Regions from separate parts of the Homo sapiens genome. Here region 1 is linked to region 2. The links come from fine-mapping of genetic effects on gene expression. Tissue or cell type: whole blood. Region 2 holds a variant in brackets; the other region holds the start of a gene. All regions are shown on one strand. Distances are between the middles of the regions.

Region 1 (5,000 bases), 27 kb after region 2:
ACAATGACAACAGGCTTTGTCTTCCCAGGAAGCCAGGCACCATTTAAAGGTACAGAAGCACACGAGGAGTCCAGCTGAGGCACACAAAACCTACCACAGGGCAGCCAGCCGGGCGCTCTTCTCCACACCTCCACCCAGTGCCAGTGGAGGCATGAGCCCAGGCAGGAGGGAAGGCACAATGAATTTCTGAAGTAAAGTTTAAATAGATTTTATTGTTACAAGGGGGACCCCACCAAGCAGGGTCAGTGACCCCCAAGGAGGTCACCATGGAGACATCAAGAGGTCATGATTGCAGAAGAGGTGACTGGAATTGAATGACATGATCCAGGGGAGGCCGGCCACAAATGCAGTAACATGACCAGGATGGGCCGGTGGGGCTGGTCAGGTCACAGTGTGAGGGACAGAACGGACCCCTTCACTCTGGCCTCCTGTAGGTCTCCAGGTGTGACAGGATCCAGCCCGCTGGCAGGAGGAAGGTCACGAAGCAGGAGGTAAGCCCAACGGCCAATTCCTACACAGAGCACAAGAAAGAAGGCACCTCGGAGTCAGTATTCCCCTAGGCTCTCTAAGTCCTTGCAGTTCCCAGGCAGCAGAAAGCCCCGCTCAGGGAGCCAGGACTCAGAGGCAAGTGGGAGGCCCCGCATCCTCACGTTAAAGGAATCCACGCTCCACGGAGCAGACAGAGCAGGTCCAAAGCTACGCTAACCCTTGAGGTAAAGGGTCAGTTATAAGGAGGGGGAAGAGTGAGAGGAAGGAGAGACAGCTGGGGTTAGGGTTCAGGGAGAAATGCACCACCAGATGGTAAAGGAAGGGACAGGAAGCAGGATTTATTGAAACCTGTTTTAAAGCTGGTCTGGGCCGGGCATGGTGGCTCACACCTGTAATCCCAGCAATTTGGGAGGCCAAGGCGGGCGGATCACAAGGTCAGGAGTTAGAGACCAGCCTGACCAACATGGTGAAACCCCGTCTCTACTAAAAATACAAAAAATTAGCCGGGAGTGGTGGCGGGCGCCTGTGATCCCAGCTACTCGGGAGACTGAGGCAGGAGAATGGCTTGGCTTAAACCTGGGAGGCGGAGGTTGCAGTAAGCCGAGATCGCACCACTGCACTCCAGCCTGGGTGACAGAGCAAGACTCCGTCTCAAAAAAACAAACAACAAACAAAAAAAGCAAAGCCTGTATGTTAAGACCCAGGATCCTTGCATGGGCCAGTAACTCCAAAACGATACCTATCCTTCCTTGCCTGAAAACCCCCTCCCAGGCCGGGCGCAGTGGCTCACGCCTGTAATCCCAGCACTTTGGGAGGTTGAGGCAGGCGGATCACGAGGTCAAGAGATCGAGACCATCCTGGCCAACATGGTGAAACCCCGTCTCTACTAAAAATACAAAATTTAGTTGGGCATGGTGGCACGCGCCTGTAGTCCCAGCTATTCGGGAGGCTGAGGCAGGAGAATCGCTTGAACCCGGGAGTCGGAGGCTGCAGTGAGCCGAGATCGCGCCACTGCACTCCAGCCTGGCGACAGAGCGAGAACCCGTCTCAAAATAAATAAGTAAAATAAAATAAAATAAAATAAATAGCAGTAACAACCATTTTCGTCGCTGACAGCGTCAGGCATCCCCCAGTGAACCAACGAGAAAATGGGCTCAGAGCGGCTAAAGAAGTCGGCAGGAGGCGGCGCAGCGAGGAGGCGACAGGAGAGGGAGGGCCTGACAGGACCAGACCCGAGATCCTGGGGCTGTGGGGAAAGACCTAACGCCGACAGCCCCGACTGTCGCCCGGGCACTGTCCCCGTCGTTCGCGCCCTCCAGACATGCCCAAACCGGCACTGCTGCTCCCCGCTACGCTGCGGGGCGCGAGGCATTCTCAGGACCACCTGAGGTCAGCTAGGCAGAAGGGGTCAGCCCACGGCGCCTCCCGCGCTCTTCCAGGCCCGTTCCTCACCATGATCCCAAGCTTCCCCTCCGGCGGCAACGAATGGATCTTGGCGCGCGGCACTGGGAGCCGCCGGGCCGAGCCTGTCAAGCCCCGCAGCAGCAGCGGCGTCAGGACGGACATGATGGCACGGAGTACACCACAAAAAACGGTCAGCCGTAGCCCAAGGTCAGGAAGCCAAAATGGCTGCGCTGGCCGGAAGTTCTGGAGCTGGGGAAGCAGGGAAACTGCGGCGCGGAAGTCTCTCGGAAATGACGCAAGAACACACCTCCCACAGCCCTTGGCAGTTTTTGGCGCGTTCCTCGAAACAGCCAATTGACACCTTCCTACGCTATGGGCGGAGCACAAAAGGGCTCTTCTTCGAGTTATGTTCCGCCTCCAAGGCTTATACTTGTGAATGACATCTGGGGCCACCCAATCATGTACGCGAGAAGCCTAAACTGTTCTTGACTCCTCCCTTCATTCATACTGTTAAATCTCTCTCTATTCAGGCTGGGCGTGGTGGCTCACGCCCGTAATCTCAGAACTTTTGGGAGGCCGTCTGTACTAAAAAAAAAAAAGTACGGGCTGGGCGCGTTGGCTCACGCCTCTAATCCCAGCACTTTGGGAGGCCGGGGCGGGTAGATCATCTGAGGTCAGGAGTTTGACACCAGTCTTGCCAGCATGGTGAAACCCCATCTCTACGAAAAATACAAAAATTGGCCGGGCGCAGTGGCTCACGCATGTAATCCCAACACTTTGGGAGGCCGGGGCCGGTAGATCATCTGAGGTCAGGAGTTTGAGACCAGTCTTGCCAGCATGGTGAAACCCCATCTCTACGAAAAATACAAAAATTGGCCGGGCGCAGTGGCTCACGCTTGTAATCCCAACATTTTGGGAGGCCGAGGCGGGTGGATCACCTGAGGTCAACAGTTCGAGACCAGACTGGCCAACATGGTGAAACCCCGTCTCTACTAAAAATACAAAAATTAGCTGGGCATGGTGGTGGGCGCCTGTAATTCCAGCTACTCGGGAGGCTGAGTCAGGAGAATTGCTGAACCCAGGAGACGGAAGTTGCAGTGAGCCGAGATTGAGCCATTGCAGTCCAGACTGGGCCACAAGAGCGAAACTCCATCTCAAAAATAAAAAACAACAATAAAAAAAGTTCGAAAGCAGCCTGGCCAACATGGTGAGACTCCATCTCGACTAAGAATACAAAAAATAGCCAGGCATGGTGGTAGATGCCTGTAATCTCAGCTACTAGGGAGGCTGAGGCAGGAGAACTGCTTGAACCCGGTAGGCAGAGGTTGCAGTGAGCTGAGATCACGCCACTGCACTCCAGCCTGGGCGACACAGCAAGACTCCGTCTCAAAAAAAAAAAAAAAAAAAAATCTCTCTATTGAGAGTCCCCTCCTCTCCACCAGGCCTCCGTCGTTTTTGTTGAGAATTCCTGACACTGACCTAGTAACCAAACCTCCCTCAATTACTATTACACTCTTCAATTCCAGTTACCATGCTGGAGCAGCCAACTTCCCTTCCTTCCTACCCTATCACTCTCTCTCCCTCCCCCATCCCTTCCTTCTTGGTTTTTTAAACCTAAATCTGACCAAGTCATATACTTTCAGTGGCTCCCCATTGCTTCCTAGTCAAAATCCCAATTCCCGGATGTCACTGTCCAGCCTCAACTCTCAAAACTCTTCAATATTCCACACCTTCGACCCTGCTCTCTGATTTCCACCAACAAGCCTTTTGTTGCATTCAAAATGCACTCTGCATTTTGTTATTGATGTTGAGACAAGGTCTAGCTCTAAGCCCAGGCTGGAGTGGAGTGTGGTGTGATCTCGGCTCACTGCAGCCTTGCAACCTCCACCTCCCAGACTCAAGCCAACCTCCCACCTCAGCCTCCCAAGTAGCTGGGATTACAGGTGCCCACCACCATGCCTGGCTTTTTTTTTTTTTTTTTTTTTTTGAAATAGAGTCTTGCGCTGTTGCCCAGGCTGGAGTGCAGTGGCACTATCTTGGCTCTCTGCAACCTCCGCCTCCCGGGTTCAAGCAATTCTCCTGCCTCAGCCTCCTGAGTAGCTGGGATTACAGGCATCTGCCACCATGCCCGGCTATTTTTTGTATTTTTAGTAGAGACAAGGTTTCACCATGTTGGCCAGGCTGGTCTCGAACTCCTGACTTCAGGCGATCCACCCACCTTGGCCTCCCAAGGTGCTGGGATTACAGGCATGAGCCACAGCGCCCAGCCTAATTTTTGTAGTGTTTGTAGAGCTGGAGGGGGGTCTTGCTATGTTAGTCAGGCTAGTCTCAAACTCGTGAGCTGAAGCGATCCACCCAGATCAGCCTCCCAAAGTGCTGGGATTACAGGCATTTGTCAGGGCACCTGGCCTTGCCTCTGCACTTTGGGTTTTGTTTTTGAGACATGCATCACCCAGGCTGGAGTGCAGTGGTGCAATATCAGCTCACTGCAACCTCCACCTCCCTGGCTCAAGCGATTCTCCTGCCTCAGCCTCCCAAGCAGCTGGGATTACAGGTGTATGCCACCACACCCGGCTAATTTTTGCATTTTTAATAGCGACAGGGTTTCGCCATGTTGGCCAGGCTGGTCTTGAACTCCTGGCCTCATGTCATCTGCCCGCCTCAGCCTCCCAAAGTGCTGGGATTACAGGCATGAGCCACTGTGCCCGGCGTTGCTTCTGCATTTTATGTTCATTTTTTCAGCTCCTATGCAGGCTGCCTTTTTCACCATGCTAACTCCTGCTTCCTGGCTTCCAGTTAATGATACCACTTACTTTATTCAGTGAATATTTATTAGCCTCTACTGTGTGTTAGGAACTATTGTAGACACCAGTATGAACGAGGTGGATAGAGTTTCTTGTCACAAAGCTGACTTCTGGAGGGAAAAAACAGACAATAAACAGGCACTTAATTAGAAACTATTGTGTAAGTGTCACGGTGAAAATAAAACCATGATGTGCTAGGAAGATATGTGGGGTGGCACTACTCAGGATGCCTTCGCTGGTCACCCCAAGCCTGTGTCTCCTCTGTGCCCAGCAACACCTGTGTCAGCCCTGCCCCACATGGTG
Region 2 (5,251 bases):
CCCCAGGAATGCCCAGGGCCATGGGCAATCACTCAGCCCAGCCCTCCTTCCTTCCACAACATCCTTCCATGGGAGGCGCACAGATGCTGGGCTGAATGCTGGCCGTGGAGGCTGGAAGGCAGGGCTTTACCACAGCAAAGCAGGGAGATGCCTAAGATGGGGCGGAGGGTCAAGGGCCGCTCAGAGGCCAGGGCTTGGGGCAGAAAGAGGTTCCTCCGGGCTCAGGCGAGGGCAGGCAGAGCCCCAGTGGCATTTGAGGAGCGGCCTGAGGAACGAGAGCCCACGAAGGAGACGGGAAGTCCCGCTGGATGGAGGGAGCCGTCAGCGCTGGGGGCAGCCAAACCGTCCAGAAAGACAGTGGCCTCAGAACACTGTGCAACAAGAGGCCACCAGGGCAGCCCCCCTGCTGGAAGGGGACGTGCTGATGTGGGGAGACACTGCCTCCCCAAGAGCGTGGACAGGGGGCCATTCAAACCAGTCAGCCAGAGTGGTTCAGGGCGAGGCCCTTTAGTGGTCCCAGAGGAAGCAGAGCCACTGAGGTTGGGAGCCCAACCTTCCAGCCGTGTGGGCAAGTTTTGCTCTCTGTGCCTCAGTTTCTTCTTCTATAAACAGGAAAAATAATAAGACAGCGGCTGTAAATCACCACGCAGGTGCTTACCCAACAAGAAGGCTGACAAAGGCCATGGGGGGTGAGTCATACCAGCTACTTAGGAGGCTTAGGCAGGGCAACATAGCAAGACCCTGTCTCAAAAAAACACAGGCTCACATCTGTAATCCCAGCACTTTGGGAGGCTGAGACGGGTGGATCACTTGAGGTCAGGAGTTCAAGACCAGCCTGGGCAACATGGTGAAACCCCATCTCTACTAAAAATACAAAAAATCAGCTGGGCATAGTGGTGCGCCCCTGTAAGCTCAGCTACTCGGGAGGCTGAGGCATAAGAATCACTTGAACCCAGGAGGCAGAGGTTGCAGTGAGCCAAGATTGCACCACTGCACTCCAGCCTGGATGATATAGTGAGACAGAGGGCTGATATGAAGGAGCCATATCAGGGGGAGTTTAACGGTAGAGGAGGGTGGAGGGAAGAAGGGGCTGCAGGGAGGAGGCAGAGGGGCCTTAGGGGCCATCTTCTGGCCACAGGTGGAGGAAGGCTTCATCTTTGACCTGATGGAGAAACATCTCAGGGGGGTCCCGCCACCCAAGTGGGCTCTGCCTCCCCAGGAAAGACCCCAGGTTTTCTGCTGACTTGGGGTGAGGGTTGAGCTGGAGCCTGGAGGTTTGTTTTGGTGGCTGAGGGCCCTGGAGAGGAGACTAAGGGTTGGTCAGCTCCTGTGAACTGGGAATACCCCACCTCCACCAGGTAGCCCCAGGGATCAGGGCTGCTGGTCTTTTCCAGCTGCCTTGGGGTGGGGTGGGAAGAGGGAAGAGGGAAGGAAGGGCATCTCCCCTGAATGGGACCCCAGGAAGCTTGAGTCTCTAGGACCTAGCTTAGCCCCAGGTAAGAGCCAGGACAGGGCCTGGAGGGCAGAGCTAAGGGGACTCTGGGAGTGTGTGTGGGAGGGGTCCTTTGGGCCTATGGCTAAGGAGAGCAGGGTGGGGGGGTTCCCCTCTGCACTCTCAGGGGAGAGAGCGAGAAGGCTGGTGTGTGGACAGGGAGGGACACGCAGGCAAGAGGGGCCAGGCTGCACTCTAGCTTGTTGGGGTAGCAGTGGGCTGACAGTGACCTGTCCCTCATCTCTGCTTTAGGGGAGCCCCTCCCTGGGGCCCCTGCAGAGCCATCACCTGGCCCAGGCCCTGTTCTGGAACTGCTGGGGGTGAGGAGGGGGCATCTGGCCTGAGCCCTCTGCCAGCATTGATTCCAGCTCCCTCCACCTCCCTTGCGCCCCCAGGTCAGCCCCAAAGGCCTGGCTGCAGGCCAGTCCACTTCCGCAGGAAACATTAAATTCCTGAAACACTGAGCTCCACTTCCCCGCACGGGCCCCCACAGCTGGCCGAGGTCGCCTGCAGGGCGGTGAGCCCCCAGAGACTTCGAGCAGCCGGTGCCAGGTGCTCGACCCGGGAGGCTCCTAGGAGAGCCAGCTCAGACAGATCCCTGGGCTCACCCCCACACACTGTGAACACCCTGTGTGCACCCACCTCCCATCACACTGATGTACACATACCCGAACATGCCCACACTGTCACACTGTTGTTAATAACAGGATACACTCATGACCTCCATTCTTGCCAAGCACTGCCTTAAGCACATTACAAAGTTAGTTTAACTCAATCCTTCCAACAGCCCAATGAGCTCTGAGGTGGGTGCTATTATCCCATTTTCCAGATGGAGCAACTGAGACCCAGAGAGGTTAAATGATATGTGAGGGGTCACACATCTGTGGCTGGCAGAGCCAGGATGTGAACTCACGTTGCCCAGCTCCACAGCCCAGCCACGGCACCCCATTCGGAACACTCACTTCCCAGCACTGGGAGCTCCAGCCTGGACGCCCGCTCTGGGCCCTGCCTTCTTGCTCCATCTCAGCCTCGCCCTGGGCTACAGCTGCCTTTCTCCCTGCAGAGGAGAGGAGCAGGTGGAAGGGATCCAGGCCTGAGCC[G/C]TTCTCAGCGTTCCCCTAACCTCTCTGCCCACCCATCCCTGGGACGCTCTGGGAAATTGCCTGGTGCCAGCTCTGAGTAAAGTTGCAGAATGAGGTTTAATTGTGCCCCCAGGGCACGAGATCAAACAGCAAAAGAAAGGGGTGTGAGCTACCTGGCATCCCTGGAACTGTGCCGAGACTGAGGTGATGAAGGAGAAGGTGGCCTTGGTTTGTCCATCTGTAAAATGGGGAATGATGGTCCTCTCTTGATGCCCGCCTGTGAGCACCAGGCAGCTGGTGCCTGAGGAGCTCCTGGCGTGGGCGATCAGAGCTGCCAAAGATGGGCCCTGTCCTCCCGGCCAGCACGCGGCGTTTTCCTCTGTGGGAGGGTCGCTGTCCCGGTATTCCAGATAAGAGGGTGGACGCCAGAGAGGGGAAGGGGCAGGATCTCACAGCCGATGAGGGGTGAGCCCGGGCTGGACCCAGGCCTGCCTGAGGCCGCGCCTCTCCTGCGCGGTGCCCTGGCGAGGTTGGGCTGCTGGAGCGTTTCCTCCATGCCTCCCGCTGCGCCCCGGTTGTTTATCTGCGCCCGGGTCCCCAGGGTCGCTCGCGAGGCCCTGCAGCCGCCCTCGGATAAACAAGCCCATGCGGGGCCGTAATTAAGCTGGATGCGCTAACGAGGCGGTTCATTAACCAGCTGGGGTTTGCGCGCCAGGAGACTCGGGCCCGGGCGTCGGGCTCACCTCCCCGCGCGGCTGGAAGACCCAGACTCCAGCTACAGATCTGATCACCCTGTAACAAGGTGGCCTCGGTTTCCTCATCCGCAAAATGGGTCCTAGGGTTTGCCGCCGCCCCGTGATGGGGCGCCGCCTGGGGAGGTGGGCCTTGGGATCGCACCGACGCTGAGGCCCGGGCGGAGGCAGCGACTGGTCGCGGGCCCTGCAGCGCGCCCGGGACAGGGCTAGGGAGGGGCGTCGGGGAGGAAGCTTCCCCGTCACCCCGGCTCGGGCGGCGGTTCCTGTCCCGGCGGCCCCCGCCTCCCGGAGCCGCCCTGCCTGGGCCCTGGCGGCGCGGCCTGGAAGGGACAGGGTGGGCCGGGTGCGCCCCCTGCCGGCCTCCTTGCGCGACTTCCCGCCAGGCCCAGGGCCGTCCCGCTCTGCGCCTCGGTTTCCCCAGATGTGAAACATTCCGGGCGGGGGTGGGGGCAGCGGCCGCGGCCGGAGGCCACGGGGTTGGGGCGCGGCTCCGCATGGGTCCTCGCATCGCCGAGGGGCTTCTCGGGACTGAGGGTGCTCACCCCGGGGCCGCAGCCTTGCCAGGCCAGCTCAGTCGCGCCCGCCCTTCCCGCAGTGGACGGCTGCATTCATCGGGCCGCCGGCCCCCTGCTTACCGACGAGTGCCGGACCCTGCAGAGCTGTAAGACTGGCAAGGCCAAGATCACCGGCGGCTATCGGCTCCCGGCCAAGTGTGAGTCCCCGACGCGCCCCCAGCTGTGGGGCGCAGACAGGGCGCCCGTGTGTCACTGGGACATCAGGGGTGCGGCCCCCACAGGAGTGCTGGGGAACTCCTCAGGGGGCCCTTCTTAACCTTAAGGGCCAAGACCCGGCCCCCACCCCGCACACCCCAGGAAGCACATGGGGGAGACCGTGCGTGGAGGCTGAGGATGGAGCTGGGGGGCAACGCCTTCGCGCCCACACTCGCGCTCGGGTCTCAGCCGGGCCCATACAGATGTGGGGAGGGGGCGCGGGGCTCTGTGCGCGTGCGGATTCGGGCTCGAGGGGGCCCACAGGGGTGGGGGCCTTCGCGGAGGAGGCTCAGCGCTTGGGGGGAAAGGTGTTTCCTGCCCCCTTCTGCCCAGGCCGGCAGGGGGAAGCGAGGGAGCTGAGGACCGCGTAGACCCCCGCCGGTCTGACCCCGTCGCCCCCCGTAGACGTCATCCACACAGTGGGGCCCATCGCCTACGGGGAGCCCAGCGCCAGTCAGGCTGCCGAGCTCCGCAGCTGCTACCTGAGCAGTCTGGACCTGCTGCTGGAGCACCGGCTCCGCTCGGTGGTGAGGGACGGCCCGCGGGGGAGGGCGGGAGGCGGGGCGCAGTGACAATGTTCCAACCCCCTCTCACCCCTCCCCGCCCAGGCGTTCCCCTGCATCTCCACCGGCGTGTTTGGTGAGTCTGGAAGAAAGGCAAGGACCAGGAGTGGGCGGTGGACCCAGACGCCGGGAGGGGCCGGGGCGGACAGGGGAGTGGGCGGGGCCAGAGCCTAGGACTCACTCCCGCCCCACCCGCCTCAGGCTACCCCTGTGAGGCGGCCGCCGAGATCGTGCTGGCCACGCTGCGAGAGTGGCTGGAGCAGCACAAGGACAAGGTGAGTCCTGGGCCCGGGCGAGGGTGGGGTCCGCATCCCGGCCAGAGTGACCAGCCCCCATCATCGCCCAGGGAGTCAGGGTGCAGAGCGCAGGGCCAGGCCCGCCCCTTCCTTCCCTGTTTCTCCTGCGCAAGGGCGCCTGGCGGTGGCGAGATGGGGGTGATGGCACACAGCCGTGAGCCTCCGTGAAGGGCGCAGGGCCAGGCAGGTGAAAGCCTGCACCAGGGCAGGCAGTCACAGGATCCTGGGGCCAGGCGTGGCAGCTCGGCCCAGGCTGAGCAGCCCCTGGCGCAGGTGGACCGGCTGATCATCTGCGT

Evidence for each region. PIP is the estimated chance that this variant, and not a neighbour inherited with it, causes the effect.
Region 1: it holds the start of COX8A, and the variant in region 2 is fine-mapped to the expression of COX8A in whole blood (TOPMed, PIP above 0.99).

What each region holds. Positions count from the first base shown.
Region 1 is chr11:63,971,736-63,976,735 of GRCh38, reverse strand. COX8A (cytochrome c oxidase subunit 8A) reads right to left here and starts at 2,116. Exons shown (of 2, transcript NM_004074.3): 1 at 1,942-2,116; 2 at 193-511. The coding sequence starts at 2,055. The coding sequence ends at 416. RefSeq lists an enhancer at 1,763-2,202.
Region 2 is chr11:63,999,014-64,004,264 of GRCh38, reverse strand. MACROD1 (mono-ADP ribosylhydrolase 1) reads left to right here. Exons shown (of 11, transcript NM_014067.4): 5 at 3,922-4,038; 6 at 4,502-4,623; 7 at 4,705-4,735; 8 at 4,861-4,934; 9 at 5,229-5,251. Among named protein-coding and RNA genes, the nearest start is that of OTUB1, 15 kb to the right of the region's middle. RefSeq lists enhancers at 3,195-3,702, 3,715-4,650, 4,988-5,077, 4,651-5,251 and silencers at 3,388-3,967, 4,618-4,857. The variant G/C (reference allele first, on the strand shown) is at 2,593.